Homo sapiens: one gene and its partner. The protein of the gene in region 1 purifies or fractionates together with the protein of each later gene. This does not show direct contact. Each region holds a gene or a part of one and is shown on either strand. Other genes may lie near its edges.

Evidence for each region.
Region 2: the proteins of RIBC1 (region 1) and TNKS1BP1 purify together in Homo sapiens (co-immunoprecipitation; 3 studies listed by BioGRID and IntAct, with this or other methods). This does not show direct contact.

What each region holds. Positions count from the first base shown.
Region 1 is NC_000023.11:53,418,920-53,425,902, forward strand, and holds the start of RIBC1 (RIB43A-like with coiled-coils protein 1), read left to right. Parts: upstream 1-3,953; 5' UTR 3,954-4,085; exon of another isoform or gene 4,086-4,219; intron 4,220-4,394; 5' UTR 4,395-4,483; intron 4,484-6,983. Other genes in the region: SMC1A (structural maintenance of chromosomes protein 1A), read right to left, coding at 3,573-3,681.
Region 2 is NC_000011.10:57,314,923-57,321,952, reverse strand, and holds part of TNKS1BP1 (182 kDa tankyrase-1-binding protein), read left to right. Parts: intron 1-2; 5' UTR 3-67; coding exon 68-161; intron 162-1,240; coding exon 1,241-1,874; intron 1,875-4,065; coding exon 4,066-4,135; intron 4,136-7,030.

The DNA of each region.
Region 1 (6,983 bases):
AATCCCAGCTACTCGGGAGGCTGAGGCACGAGAATCGCTTAAACCCAGGAGGTGGAGGTTACAGTGAGCTGAGATCGCGCCACTGCACTCCAACCTGGGCGACAGAGAGAGACTCTGTCTCAAAAAAAAAAAAAAAAAAAAAAAAGTTTAGTCGGGCTGGTGGATAAGGAGGAACAGTTTAGTCTCTATAATTTCTATCTCAAGACTGTCCCTAAAGAACTTATATATGACTTTGAACTGAAGATCTGATTTCCAACACCTTTCTACTCAGCCATAAAAACAGCAGCCCAAGTCCTTCCATAGAGACGGTATAAGACTATGATTAGGTTGGACACGGCATCTCACGCCTGTAATCCCAGCACTCTGGGAAGCAGACGTGGGTGGATCACTTGACCTCGGGAGTTTGAGACCAGCCTGGACAACATGGCAAAATCCCATCTCTACAAAAAATACAAAAATTGGCTCGGCATGGTGGCACACTCCAGTTGTCCTGACTACTGGGAAGGCTGAGATGGGAGGGTTGCTTGAGCCCGAGAAGTTGAGGCTGCAGTGAGCCATGATTGTGCCACTGTATGCCAGCCTTGGTGACAGAGCAAGACCCTGACTCCAAAAAAAAAAAAAATAGGCCAGGCGCGGTGGCTCACACCTGTAATCGCAGCACTTTGGGAGGCCCAGGTGGGCAGATCACGGGGTCAGGAGTTTGAGACCAGCCTGAACAACGTGGTGAAACCCCGTCTCTACTAAAAATACAAAAACTGGCCGGGCATAGTGGTGCACGCCTGTAATCCCAGCTCCTCAGGAGGCTGAGGCAGGAGAATAGCTTGAACCCGGGAGGCAGAGGTTGCAGTGAGCTGAGATCACGCCACTGCACTCCAGCCTGGGCGACAGAGAAAGACTTCATCTCAAAAAAAAAAAAAAGAAAAAAAAGAAAAGAATCACTTGAACCCAGCAGGCAGAAGTTGCAGTGAGCCGAGGTCATGCCACTGCACTCCAGTGTGGGCGTCAGAGTGAGACTCCATCTAAAAAAGCTTGCAAACTTGGGCTTAGAACCAACAGACCAGGTTCTAATCTTACTTTCACTACCACTTAGCTGACCTTCCATTCCCTCACCTGGAAAAAGATGAAAAAAACCACAATTCACGGGTCTAAAAATATGTGCGGCACATACTTCTCTATTGGAGTGGCAGGAGCACAGGCATGGGTTCTGAGAACCACGGACAAGTTATCACACCTCTGTGCCTTAGTCTCCTCATGTATAAAACGAAGCTATTGGCATTTTCCTCCTAGGGTCATTTTGAGAATTTAATTGTAAAGGGTCCCTTGGCTGGGTGCAGTGGCTCATGCCTGTAATCCCAGCACTTTGGGAGGCTGAGGCAGGCAGATCACTTGAGCCCAGGAGTTTGAGACCAGCCTGGCCAACTGGGAGAAACACCAACTCTACTAAAAATACAAGAACTAGCCAGATGGGGTGGCGCACGCCTGTAGTCCCAGCTACTTGGGAGGCTGAGGCACGAGAATCACTTGAACCCAAGAGGCAGAGGTTGCAGTGAGCCAACATCATGCCACTGCACTCCAGCCTGGACAACAGAGCAAGACTGTCTCAAAAAAAAAAAAAAAGAAAAGAAAAAGAAAAAGAAAAAACAGGGTCCCAATAAATAAAGTACTTGACACACAGAGTAGGTACTCAATTAATTAGTCCTATCCTAAGTCTGGACTCAGCTGTCTCCCTCATCACAGCAGGACTAGCACATCATGCAGACCAGGAGTCAGCCTTTTAGGAACCAATATCCAACCTTTGGGCTTCTCCCATCATTTCCAGGGAGGACAACATCATCTCACAACCCCAAGCCTCTCTAATCACAATCAATATGGTAAACATTTTTGTAATATATATTATGGACTGAACACCAGTAAAACGTTTCAAGGAATGTCTGCTTTAGGGTACTCACAGGCCAATGAAGATACAAAAACATGCACCATCAATATAGGACTTAATAAACATTAACGTGTACCAAGTGTCTACGGTATGCCACAGAGGAAGACTCACTCACCAAAGGGACTAAAGGAATGGCTTGTAGAGGTGGGCCTTGAAGAACGGGGGCAAGTGGGGGAGTGCCATAGCCCTTTTCAGAACAGCTGGGAATACAAATCTACTAATGCTGAGGGGACTGAATGCCAAGAGGTACATCCTAGCTCTTCCAACAGGGGCCACTACACTAAAACCCGAGGAAACTGGGTGGACACCAAGCATTAGCCCTCCAGGCCAGTGGTTCTCAAACAAGTTGGGGGGTTGGGGGAATCACACACACCCTCTGTGACATCTAGCAATGTCTAGAGACAGTTTTGATTGTCATGCCTGGGGAGCAGGGGTGCTACTGTTATCTAGCAGGTAGATGCCAGAGATGCTGTTAAACATCCTACAATGCACAGAGCACATCCCACAGCAAAGGATTATCTCGCTGGAAATGTCAATAGTGCCACTGTTGAGACACTCAGTCTCCAGGAAAGGTACTCAGTATGTGCTACTTCAGCAAGGGCAGCCTCTTAGGCTAGGATATCATTCAGCTAGAACATCTCTGGGGTGGAAGAATACAGCAGGATTCCAAATGGACATCTGAGGTGAGAGGAATCCACGGTGTATCGTTTAGAGTTGGGAAGACACAAAATAGAGGCTTTACCTGACCACCCTTTCTAAAGACACCACCTAAGTCACTTTATCACATCCACCTGTCTCATTTCCTGTATAGCACTTATGACAGCCTAAAACCATCTTATTTTCTCCTTATCTTCTTTCCCCTCTGGAATATAAGTTCCCTGTGAGCATGGAGTTGGTTTATTCTATTCTCCGCTGTTTCCACAACTTGCAACTGAATAACTCCTGATAAACAATAAGCATTCAACAAATTTGGTAAATTAGTTAATTTCGGCTTTTGACGGTTTCGGTGGTAGGAAAAGGGCGAGTTCGAGGCAACTACCTCTGACATAGCGGTGGGGGGTGGGGATCGACACCTCAAGCATTCTAAAGACTGGAGCGCTGGGTCTGAAATTCAAAAGTGCCGCCTCCAGAGAAGAGTAGAAAGGAGTTGGAGTGTACCAATGCGAGGCGAGAGAGGACGCTGGGCTGAAACAGAAGTGCACCGTTTGGGACCGAAGGCCACGGGAGAGCTACCAGCGTCCCCACATTCTCCGGAGGGGGTCAAGTAAGGCTGGGAAGCCGGCTCCGGCCGGTCCGGCGGGGAGCCGCGCGGCGGAGGACTGAGCTGGCGGGAAGCTGGTTCCAGACGCGACTCCTTTGGCGGGAGGGGGAAGTAGGCGGGGTAACTGGCAGCTCGGCCTGTACCACTGGGCCGGGGCGGGGGCCGCGCAGGAAGCGGCAAGTGACACCTGGAAGGGGTTCGAGTTAGAGCACCCGCGCGGGGAGAGTGGGTTCGAGCAGAACCCCCTCTGGACGGGCAAGGAACCCGTAAGGGTCCGCGACGTTTCAGGTTACATGGGCTGGGTTGTACTACTCCGGCACCGGATAAGGGGTCCAGGCCGGGACGTGCGCAGGGCCGCGGCCAGGTTTATCTCACCAGAGCCATTGGGTCCAATGATGGCGGTGAACCTCTGAAATGGTCCGATAATCTGTCGACCCTTGTACGACTTAAAGTTCTCAATCTCAATCAGTTTCAGGAACCCCATGACGGCCGCGGCGCCGGCGGCAGTAGGACAGGCCGCGCCGTACGCCCGAGAACTGAGGTAGCCCGCGCGGGAAACGCCGCAGTGCAAGCCGGGCGACCGGCAAATGTCGCGAGAATACGTCCAGGCCTAACGGGATTTTCGCCTTCCGGCAGGAGTGGGACCAGGGGCGGGGACTGATGTTGCGTATACGAGGAGCGAGCTGACGACTGGCGTGGTGCCTCCGCCCCCCTTTCTTGTTGCATGGCAACAACAAACACTTGCTCCTGCGGACCAGATCCCCGGAGGAGTTGTTGCTGGGCGGAGTCAGAGCAGTTCTTGAGGTTCAAGGAGGCGGGGGAGACCTGAGCTCACGCTTGCTGAGACAGAAGTCACAGCAGGATTATGCCCCTCAGGGCAAGAGGAAGGTGGGAGCTCGGCTGTGGCTTTAGCCTGGCCAGCTTTCAAGGCTAGGACAAGGACAGGGTCGGGAATTGGAAGGACCCGGGGGGAGCGGAGAGCTGGACGGGAAGGAGGGGCCAACGGGAGGATTCAGTGTTAGGTGAGCTCAGACTTTGCTAATGGTGGGGTGGGATTGGTGGCGGGACGGGTTGCGAAGGCGGACGGGTTGTGAATGGGACTGGGGCTACTCCCAGGCAACAGGGATACAGGCTGGGGAAGGCTACGGCCTGAGATACTACCCCTATCCCCTGCCTCCCTCCTGTTGTACCAAGCAGAGTTCAGAAACTGCCGCCGTAACCCAAGAACAAAGTTGCATGCAGAGCCAACCTAAGAGCTTCAAAATCGGGATTCCTTACTGAGAAAGGTATTTTGTGTGAACCCCCAGGAGTCAGGGTCCCTAAGCCAGCGCTCTCCACCTCCACCTACCTCTGCCTCCATGCCTCTCCCCCATCCCATTCCCACAGCTCTATACCACAATGCCACCTTACCTCTCTTCCCTCTCTGCTCTCTATCATTAATAAGGCAGGGGCCTTAGCAATCCAAGAAGCTTAAAATGTCAGCTGAATCTTCCCCTTCAGTGACCTTATACTGTAATGGCAGGTGAAACCAGTAGGTAAGTTGGTGCCATTCTCAGACTTAAACATGGAAAGGATCTGGTGGTTGCCATAATTATTCCTTTAACTATTTATTAAATTATGTCCGAAGGCTAGAAAGAGTCCTAAAGACTTAGGACAAGTCCAGGAAAGTGAGGAAGTGGCTGGGCATGGTGGCTGACAACTGTAATCCCATCGTGAGGGAGGCAGGCCAAGGCAGGAGGATCACTTGAGACCAGCAGTTCAAGACCAGCCTGGGCAACATAGTGAGACCCTATCTCTACTAAAAATTAAAAAATTAGCTGGGTGTGGCAGCTCTCACCTCTGGTCTACCCAGGATGCCGAAGCAGGAGGATCACTTGAGCCTGGGAGGTTGAGGCTGTAGTGAGTGGTGTCCGCACCACTTCACTCCAGCCTAGGTGACAGAGCAATACCCTGTCTCAAAAATAAATAAAGGGAGGAAGCTTGGTAGATGGAATCTAGTAGGGGAGCCATAAATGAAGTTCAGCTGGGAGAAACAATCAGGCTGAGGGGATAAAATGGCTAAAAGACAGCAATCTCATGTAATCCATGGGGAAATACTGTTCCCTTTTAAAAGATGAGATGGTGAGCCTGGGTAACATAGCAAAACCCAATCTCTACAAAAAAATTTTAAAAATTAGGCAGGCATGGTGGCACACACCTGTAGTCCCAGCTACTCAGGAGGCTGGGGCAGGAAGATCCTTTGAGCCCAGGAGTTTGAGGCTGCAGTGAGCCATGATTGCACCACTACACTCCATCCTGGGCAACAGAGAGAGACCCCATCTAAAACAAATTAAAAATAAAATAAATTTTATTCTCTGCCTCAGCCTTCCAAGTAGCTAGGATTACAGGTGCCCACTGCCACGCCTGGCTAATTTTTTTGTATTTTTAGTAAAGACAGGGTTTCACTATGTTGGCCAGGCTGGTCTTGAACTCCTGACCTCCTGATCCACCTGCCTCGGCCTCCCAAAGTGCTGGGATTACAGGCGTGAGCCACCGCGCCCGGCCAAAAATAAAATAAAATTTTAAATTTAAAAAAGATGAGATGGCACTTGGGGGGAAAATTAAATTGGATCCTTATCTCACACCATACACAAAATGCAACTCCAAGTGGATTAAAAACCTAAGTGACGCCGGGCACAATGGCTCATGCCTGTAATACCAGCACTTTGGGAGGCCGAGGCAGGAGAATTGCTTGAGTTCAAGACTAGCTTGGGCAATATAGTGAGACCCCATCTATATTAAAAAAAATTAAATGGGGCCAGGTGTGGTGGCTCATGCCTGTAATCCCAGCACTTTGGGAGGCCAAGGAGGGTGGATCATAAGGTCAGGAGATTGAGACTATCCTGGCTAACACTGTGAAACCCCATCTCTACTAAAAATACAAAAATCAGCCGGGCATATATGTTCAACTACTTCACAGTTACAAAATGGAAAACAAAACAAAACACCAAAAAGATCCAAATAGCTATAGGAGGAATTAAAGAATCACGCTCCAAACAAAGGAACAGCACATACAAAGGCCCCGGGGTGGGAACAATTACTGTGTTGGAGGACTTGATCAGCTTGCCTGGAGCACTGTAAGCAAGGGAGACAGTGGTTTGAGACAAATTGGAGAGGTGTGCAGGAACTAGATCTTGAAAGCCCACAGTAAGGAGTTTGGATCTGATTCTAAGTATAGTGGGAAGCTAGTGGAGGATTTAAGCAGGTGAGAGACATGATCAGATTTATGTTTGCTAAAGTTTTTTTGGCTGCAGCTTTGGCTGGGTTACATGCCAAAAGTGAGCTTCCCAAAATATGAAGGAACACAGGCAAATTTAGCTTTCTAGCCTTTCATTTGACCAGAAAATAAGTAATAAAAGTAAAAAAAAAAAAAAAAAAAAAAAAAAGGGTGGGGGGACATATATTTCAGAAAAGAAAGCTGCTTCTGGTTTCTGTGATTGGGCTATAGGAGTCAATAGAGGAAGCTGGAATACCAACATGGAGACAGTTGTGGTTATTCAGGAAGCTGGCAATGGTGGCTTGGATAAGGGTTATTTTGAAAGAAGAAGGAGTGAGGGAAAGGAAGGATTAAAGGATGTCTCCTAGGTTTTTGACCGGAGCAACTTGGTGAATGGTGGTGCCACTTACTGAAATAAGGAAAACTGAATAGAGTATAATGAAAAAGGAGTGTTGTAGATGTGTTTGAGGCTTAGAAAGGTGAGCAGGGGTCAGATCATGAAGAACCTTATAAATCTGGCAAAGGGGGTT
Region 2 (7,030 bases), on another chromosome or scaffold:
AGGTCTGCAGCCACCCCAGCTCATACCTCTCTGCCTCCCCGCTCTCAAGGAGGGTCTGCCGCATGTGATGAAAGTGTCTACTCTCAGGGAAAGCTCAGCCATGGCTTCCCCACTGCCCCGGGAGATGGAGGAGGAGCTGGTGCCTACTGGCTCTGAGCCAGGTACCAATGGGTGCAGGGTGGAGCCAGGTGGCTGGGAGGGGGGTGGGAAGGACAGAGGCTGCCCCCTCTTTCTGTCTTGGGGGGTGGTTGAGTGATGATTCTGTTGAGATAGGGAAGGAGTACCAAGGCAGTACAGGATGAGTTTGAAAGGTTCTCAGCTTCTCTTGAGACTCTTCAGAACTGTTTGGGATCATAAATCTCCAACAGGTGTAAGAGCAGACAGGGACCTTTGAGATGATATGGATCAAGCTGCATGCTTTGCAGAGGGGAAAACTGAGGCCCACAGGGAAAAATGGAGTGTACAAGTGGGAGTTTGAACCCAGACCTCCTGGCTCCTTGTGTAGACTCTTTTCTTCTATTTAGCCAAATGTGTAGGAGGTACGGGATTCCATCAGGAGGACTGTGGACGAGGGTACTTCCAAGGTCATTTAGCTTTATATAGAAGGTAGATTTCTGGTCCTGTTTTTTTTTTTCTTCCCATAGCAGATTTACTTTTGTTTGACTTGGGTCAATAGTAAGTTTGCATTCCCAGTCACACACCAGATGACAGTGGGGAGGTGGCCTGGGAGTGTGCTGTGGGTGGGGGAGGAGGCAGCCTGGAGGCAGGATAGAGAAGCTCAGCTGAGATTGAAAGTTTACTATGGATGATAGAGAAGAGTGTCACATAAGGTGAAAAAACTAGATTGGGAATATGGGGGGGCTGACTGCTTGATAGGGACAGGCAGGCATTTGTTTATTGGCTCATTTGTTCATTCATTCTTTTGTTTAATTATAACTTATGCTAGGGGCAAAATACAGTACAGGAAGAAGTAAGGTGCCAGGTGGGTCCTTAAATAGCTTCAGCTTAAAAGGGGAATTGGCTAAAACATTTTGGGAGTTTGAAGAAGGGAGAAGATGCTTTGGGGATGTGTGTAGAAAATCAAGGAAGGCTTCATGGAAGAGGTGGCATATGACTTGTGCCTAGAAAGATGTGAATATTCTTAAATCGGAGGGTGGGAGATGAGGTGGAACAGGAAACAAAGAAGTTCTGCTTCCTGGTTCTTCTGACAGCTCCCCCACCAACCCTTTCCTTTTGGTAGGTGACACTCGGGCCAAACCCCCTGTCAAGCCCAAACCCCGGGCCCTGCCTGCCAAGCCAGCCCTGCCTGCCAAACCCAGCCTGCTGGTGCCTGTTGGGCCTCGGCCTCCCCGGGGTCCCCTGGCTGAGTTGCCTTCTGCCAGGAAGATGAACATGCTGGCAGGACCCCAGCCCTATGGTGGCAGCAAGCGCCCCCTTCCCTTTGCACCAAGGCCTGCGGTTGAGGCCTCCACTGGAGGAGAAGCCACCCAAGAGACTGGGAAAGAGGAGGCTGGGAAAGAGGAGCCACCCCCTTTGACACCCCCAGCTCGATGTGCAGCCCCAGGGGGTGTACGGAAGGCCCCTGCCCCTTTCCGCCCAGCCTCAGAGCGCTTCGCGGCCACCACGGTGGAAGAGATCCTGGCCAAGATGGAGCAGCCTCGGAAGGAGGTCCTTGCCAGCCCCGACCGCCTGTGGGGTTCCCGCCTCACCTTTAACCACGATGGCAGCTCGCGATATGGCCCCAGGACCTATGGCACGACCACTGCTCCCAGGGATGAGGATGGCAGCACCCTCTTCAGGGGATGGTCCCAGGAGGGGCCAGTAAAGTCTCCAGCAGAGTGCCGGGAAGAGCACAGCAAGACCCCTGAGGAGAGGTGAAGGGTGGGAGGTTGTATATTTTGTGGCAGCCTGGAGGTCAGGTGGGGTGGGATTGGGTGGGGGCTGGGGACCAAGTGCATGGCCCCATATAGGGTTGTGACTTTTACCTGTAGGTTGGTTGTGTGCTGTGAGTACAGGCAGATCCCGATCTAGGTCACAAATCATTCCCCAGCAGATGGTGTTATCATTACTGTATGCTTTTAAAGTTGTAGTTTTCTTTACAGAGTTGATGCAGGTTTATGTTAGAGAGTTCAAATGTACAGTATAGAAGTTTAATAGACAATAGACTTTTTTTTTTTTTTTTTTTGAGATGGTGTTTTGCTCTTGTCACCCAGGCTGGAGTGCAGTGGTGCGATCTCGGCTCACTGCAACCTCTGCCTCCCAGGTTCAAGTGATTCTCCTTCCTCAGCCTCCTGAGTAGCTGGGATTACAGGCGTGGGCCACCACGCCCAGCTAATTTTTTTGTATTTTTAGTAGAGTTGGGGTTTCACCCTGTTGGCCAGGCTGGTCTTGAACTCCTGACCTCAGGTGATCTGCCTGCTTCGGCCTCCCAAAGTGCTGAGATTACAGGCATGAGCCACCACGCCCGGCCAAGAAGTTTAGTTTCTATATACTGAGAGCTGGGCACCAAACTTTGCCTCGTTGGCATCCTGTTTGTTCAAGGGAGTATTAGATCCATTGTAGAGATGAGGAAACTGAGGCTCAAAAATGACTCCATAGTCTCGGCAAGTTAAGAGGCAGAGACAGATGTTTGTTTGATTCCAAATCCTCTGCTCTTAAGTGCCAGCTCTTACAGTGGTCAGAGCAGTGTGCCAGTCCTGGGGTGGGGCTGCGTGTGTCAGGATGAGTAGGGCACAGTCTCTGCCTGTGAGGTGGAATCTGATGGGAGAGGTAAGAGAGGAACACATCTTTTTTTTTTTTTTTTTTTTTGAGACGGAGTCTCGCTCTGTCATCCAGGCTGGAGTGCAGTGGCGCAATCTCGGCTCACTGCAAGCTCCACCTCCTGGGTTCACGCCATTCTCCTGTCTCAGCCTCCCGAGTAGCTGGGACTACAGGCGCCTGCCACCACACCCGGATAATTTTTTTGTATTTTTAGTAGAGATGGGGTTTCACTGTGTTAGCCAGGATGGTCTCGATCTCCTGACCTCGTGATCTGCCTGCCTCGGCCTCCCAAAGTGCTGGGATTACAGGCGTGAGCCACTGCGCCCTGCGAGAGGAACACATCTTGATGCCAGGCCAGCTAGTGTCTGCACAGAGATTTTGGCTGGTTGGAGATATTTGCATATGATACGCTTCTCCAGAGTTGCCACTAGTGTAAAGCAAGGCTGGCCAGGAGGTGCTTCTTGGGGTGCTGGGCACGGGACTTTGGAGGAAGAGGCTGAGGCATCTCAGGAGCCATCAGCTGCACAGAGGCTGTCCTTAGTGCTGGGAGAGCCAGCTTGAGGTATGGCTGGCTCCTTGGGCCTTTAACAGCTCTGCTGGGCTCAGAGGCTCCCTTTCTCTTCCTACTGCTATGAAGGCAAGAGCTGGTGTGGTCTGGGCTAAGCGGGAAGCTGAGGGTCCCTGCCCTGCCCTGCCCTCTGGCCTTGCCCTTCTCTCACCTGAAAGTGTCTGGAGCCTTGGCCCCAGAGCTAGTCCTTTGCCTGTCCCAGACCAGGGTGCTGTGAGGTCACACTCTTGCCCAGGCTGGGTTCCACCCGCCATCTTCCTTCTCTCCCTCACTCCAAGTAGGGCTTAAGAACAACTTCAACCCTGGAAAATCACTCTTTCCTCTTCCCCTCCCCCACTGCAATTCTTCAAGAAGTATTGGCAGGGCAGCAGGACCAGCTGCACTCTTCCTGGCTAGAGGAGAACTTTAACTCCTTATGGGTTAAAGGAAAGAGGAGTTATCTTTTTAGGAGCTGTTGAGAGGTCTGGGCATCCAGGATGCTTTTCCTAAAGTAGCTGGGGAATTTAACCCTTCATGCTCAGGTAGGGAATAAGCACTGTTTTCTGGGGCACTTGCCGAATGGAAAATGGACAGATTCTGTGTCCCTAATAGTTGCAGGCAGGGCTCAAGAGTAAATGGCTAGGAGGGTTTAACCTTTGGGTGCTGTTAAAGTTGCACTGGGAGACTCTCCCACATTTTCCATTCTGTGACAGACTCTAACATTCCGTGCTTCCATTTCCTGTCCTCGTCCCTCACAGGAGCCTTCCTTCCGACCTGGCCTTCAACGGGGACCTGGCTAAGGCAGCCAGCTCGGAGCTACCTGCTGATGTGAGTTATCCTCCAGTTATGAATCAGAATCACGTATTTTAGAGCTGGAAGGGTCATATGAGATCATCTTTTCTACTCCTTGTAGTTCAGATGGGGAAACTGAGGCCCATGGGGAGAGTGACTCACTGGAGGGCTGGCCCTGGGATTTTTCGACTCCTGGGCCAGTGCTCTTGATCACCAAAGTGGCTAGGTGTGGTTAAGGCCATGAGGCCATTCATCATAAACAGTAATGATAGTATCCACAACAACTGCCATTGATTAAGTCCCTACTATGTGCTGGGCCTGTCCTGGGAACGTTAACCAACTCAATCCTTGTGATAACTCTGGCTAGTAGACCTGGTTAGTCCCATGTGAGAGATGAGAGCACCTGTACTCACAAAGGGTAAGTAACTTAGGCTGAGGCAGCAGCTACTGTGTCTGCCTCCCATGCTTTCCCTGGCTGGGCTGCCTTTTCTGAGTTCAGAAGAGGGGTGAGTCCTTTTGCTGAGATTTTCCCATCATACTCCCGTTCTTGAAGATGGTCAGCCTGCTTTCTTGAGTAAACAAGGTACAGGATGGCCCTTTTTGCTCATACAGCCCTTGCTAGCTGGAGATCTGACTTGATTCATTTGTCCATCCAGCAAGCAGTGACTGAGCGCCTGTTAGGAGCTGGATGTTGGAGATAGCTGTGAAGGTAGAGTAGAGAGTGCAGGGACGAGTGTGGTCAGGGAAGGTGTCACTGTGAAGGGCAGAGGCTGAGCTGTGTGCATGTCTGGAGAGCAGCATTCTTGGTAGAGGGCACAGCAAGTACAAAGGCATTGGTGCTTTCCTGGCAAGGAGGCCAGGATGTCTGCCTGGCAGTGAGAGAGGAGTTAGGTGGTAGTGAGGACCAACGGGTTGGGGGGTTGGATTGTGTCAAGTCTCGAAGGCCTCTAGAAAGACTTTGGCTTCAGTGAGAGCAACAGGCCATTTGAAGGGTTTGCAGGAGAGGCATGGGATGCTGCTGTCTTAGTTGTGAAGAGTCACCTGGCCCACTGGATTAAGAATCAGTTGCAGGGAGGTAAGATCAGCAGCATGGACCAGTCAGGGGGCTGTTGGAATAGTCCAAGTGAGAGATGATGACGGCTTGGACCCTGGAGGTAGCCTACGGTGGAGATGGGGAGAAGTGGTTGGTTCTGGATAGAATTTGAAGGCATGGTGGAAAGGACTTTCAGATAGATAGAGAGCACAGAATCAAGGGTGACCCCACGGCTTTTGGCCTGAGCAACCGGAAGGATGAGTTTATGGTTGCCGAGACGGGGACTTCTAAGGGTGAAGCAGGATCGGGGGAGATGGGAGGAGTTTGCTTTGTGGATTTGTTGAATTTGAGATGGTTTTCAGACATCCATGTGGAAACGTCAAGCGGATGGTTGGGTAGTCGAGTCTGGCCTTCAAGGGAAGTGAGCAAATTTGAAAGGAACACTTGGGAATTGTCAGAGTAGGAATGCTTGTGAAGACTGGCTGAGATTACTGAGAGTGGGGATGGTGCAGGAGGGGAGGGCCCAGAGGCACAGCCAAGGAGACTGGGAGGACAGTGAGAGAGTCCACCAAGTGGAGACAGCCTCCAGGACTGGGGGAGGGCGCCATCAGCTGTCAGATGCCACTGACAGGTCAAGTAAGATGAGCACAGAGAATTGGATTCAGCTCCAGGGAGGTCATCCGTGACCTTGACGAGAGTAGTTAGGTGGCAAGGTAAAGGAGAAAGCCTGTTTGGAGTGGTTTCAAGAGAGAAGGGGACAAGAAGAACTGTGGATATTAATAGTGAATATAGACAGGGCTTTCAAGAAAATGGATGGTAGCTAGTGAGTGATGTGGGGTCAAGAGTGGTTTTTTGGTTTGCTTTTTTGGCTTTTCAAGACAGAAGAAATTAGAGCAGTTTGTGTGCTGATGGAAATGATCCAGTAGAGAGGGAAAAAAAAATCGATGCAGGAGAGAGAGGAGGGATTGACCTCAGCCCCAAGCGAGGACAGTGCCTGATAGCAGAAGGGGAGGCAGAGTGCTTGGGCTCCCATGCAGGAAGTAGGTGGTGTGTGTGTGTGTGGCGGTGGGGGGGTTGTCGGGGGTTCTCTGCTGGTGGCCTCTGTGTTCTCAGGGAACAGGAAGCAAGGCCATCAGCTGAGAGAGGATTGGGGGAGGTGTGGAGGTCTGACGGGAGAAGATGCTAAAACATTGCCTGGGAGAGTCATGGAGTGAATGGCAGGGGGAGTGCCGTGGGATTCTGGGCAGCTCTAGGGCCGGCTTGAGGTCAGCAGTGAATCTGGAGTGAGACCAGCTGTCACGATTGTGTGTTTTTATCCAGCCACATGCAGCTACTCAGGTGCTGGGCTAGGATTGGCCCAGCTGTATTGGAGAGCTGTATTTAAACAGGTTAAACAGTATGATGAAGCAGATGAGGGAGTTGAGTGTTGAGTAAAAAGTGACGTTAATGGTGATAAGAAGAGAGGTGAGGGTATGAGGGGAGTGGGGGACAATGAGAAAGAATTAGGGTTAAGGGGCTGTGCTATGAGAGGGGCTGAAAATAAGGGCGTTGGGGAAATAGAGTGAGCCGGTCAGATAGGCGGTGGGGGTGGGCAAGTGGGATACTTGGGATTGAGATGATGCAGAGGTTGCAGCCACTGGTAAGGATGAGGTCTAGGGTGTGACCTTGAGAGGATGGGTCGCACAGTCACTGAGGAAGAGGAGGTCAACGAACCAGAGGCTGGAAGGGTCGCATCTGGCTATGGAGATGACTGTAAGCTATCACAACAATGATGGAGAGGGTTGCAGTGATGCAGCGGTTATGGTTTTCAAGGAATGATGGGTGCGTAAGGGTCAATAACAAGAAAGAATTGTGGGTGCTGTAGTTTAAGGGCACGAGCTTTGACATTAGAACGTTGC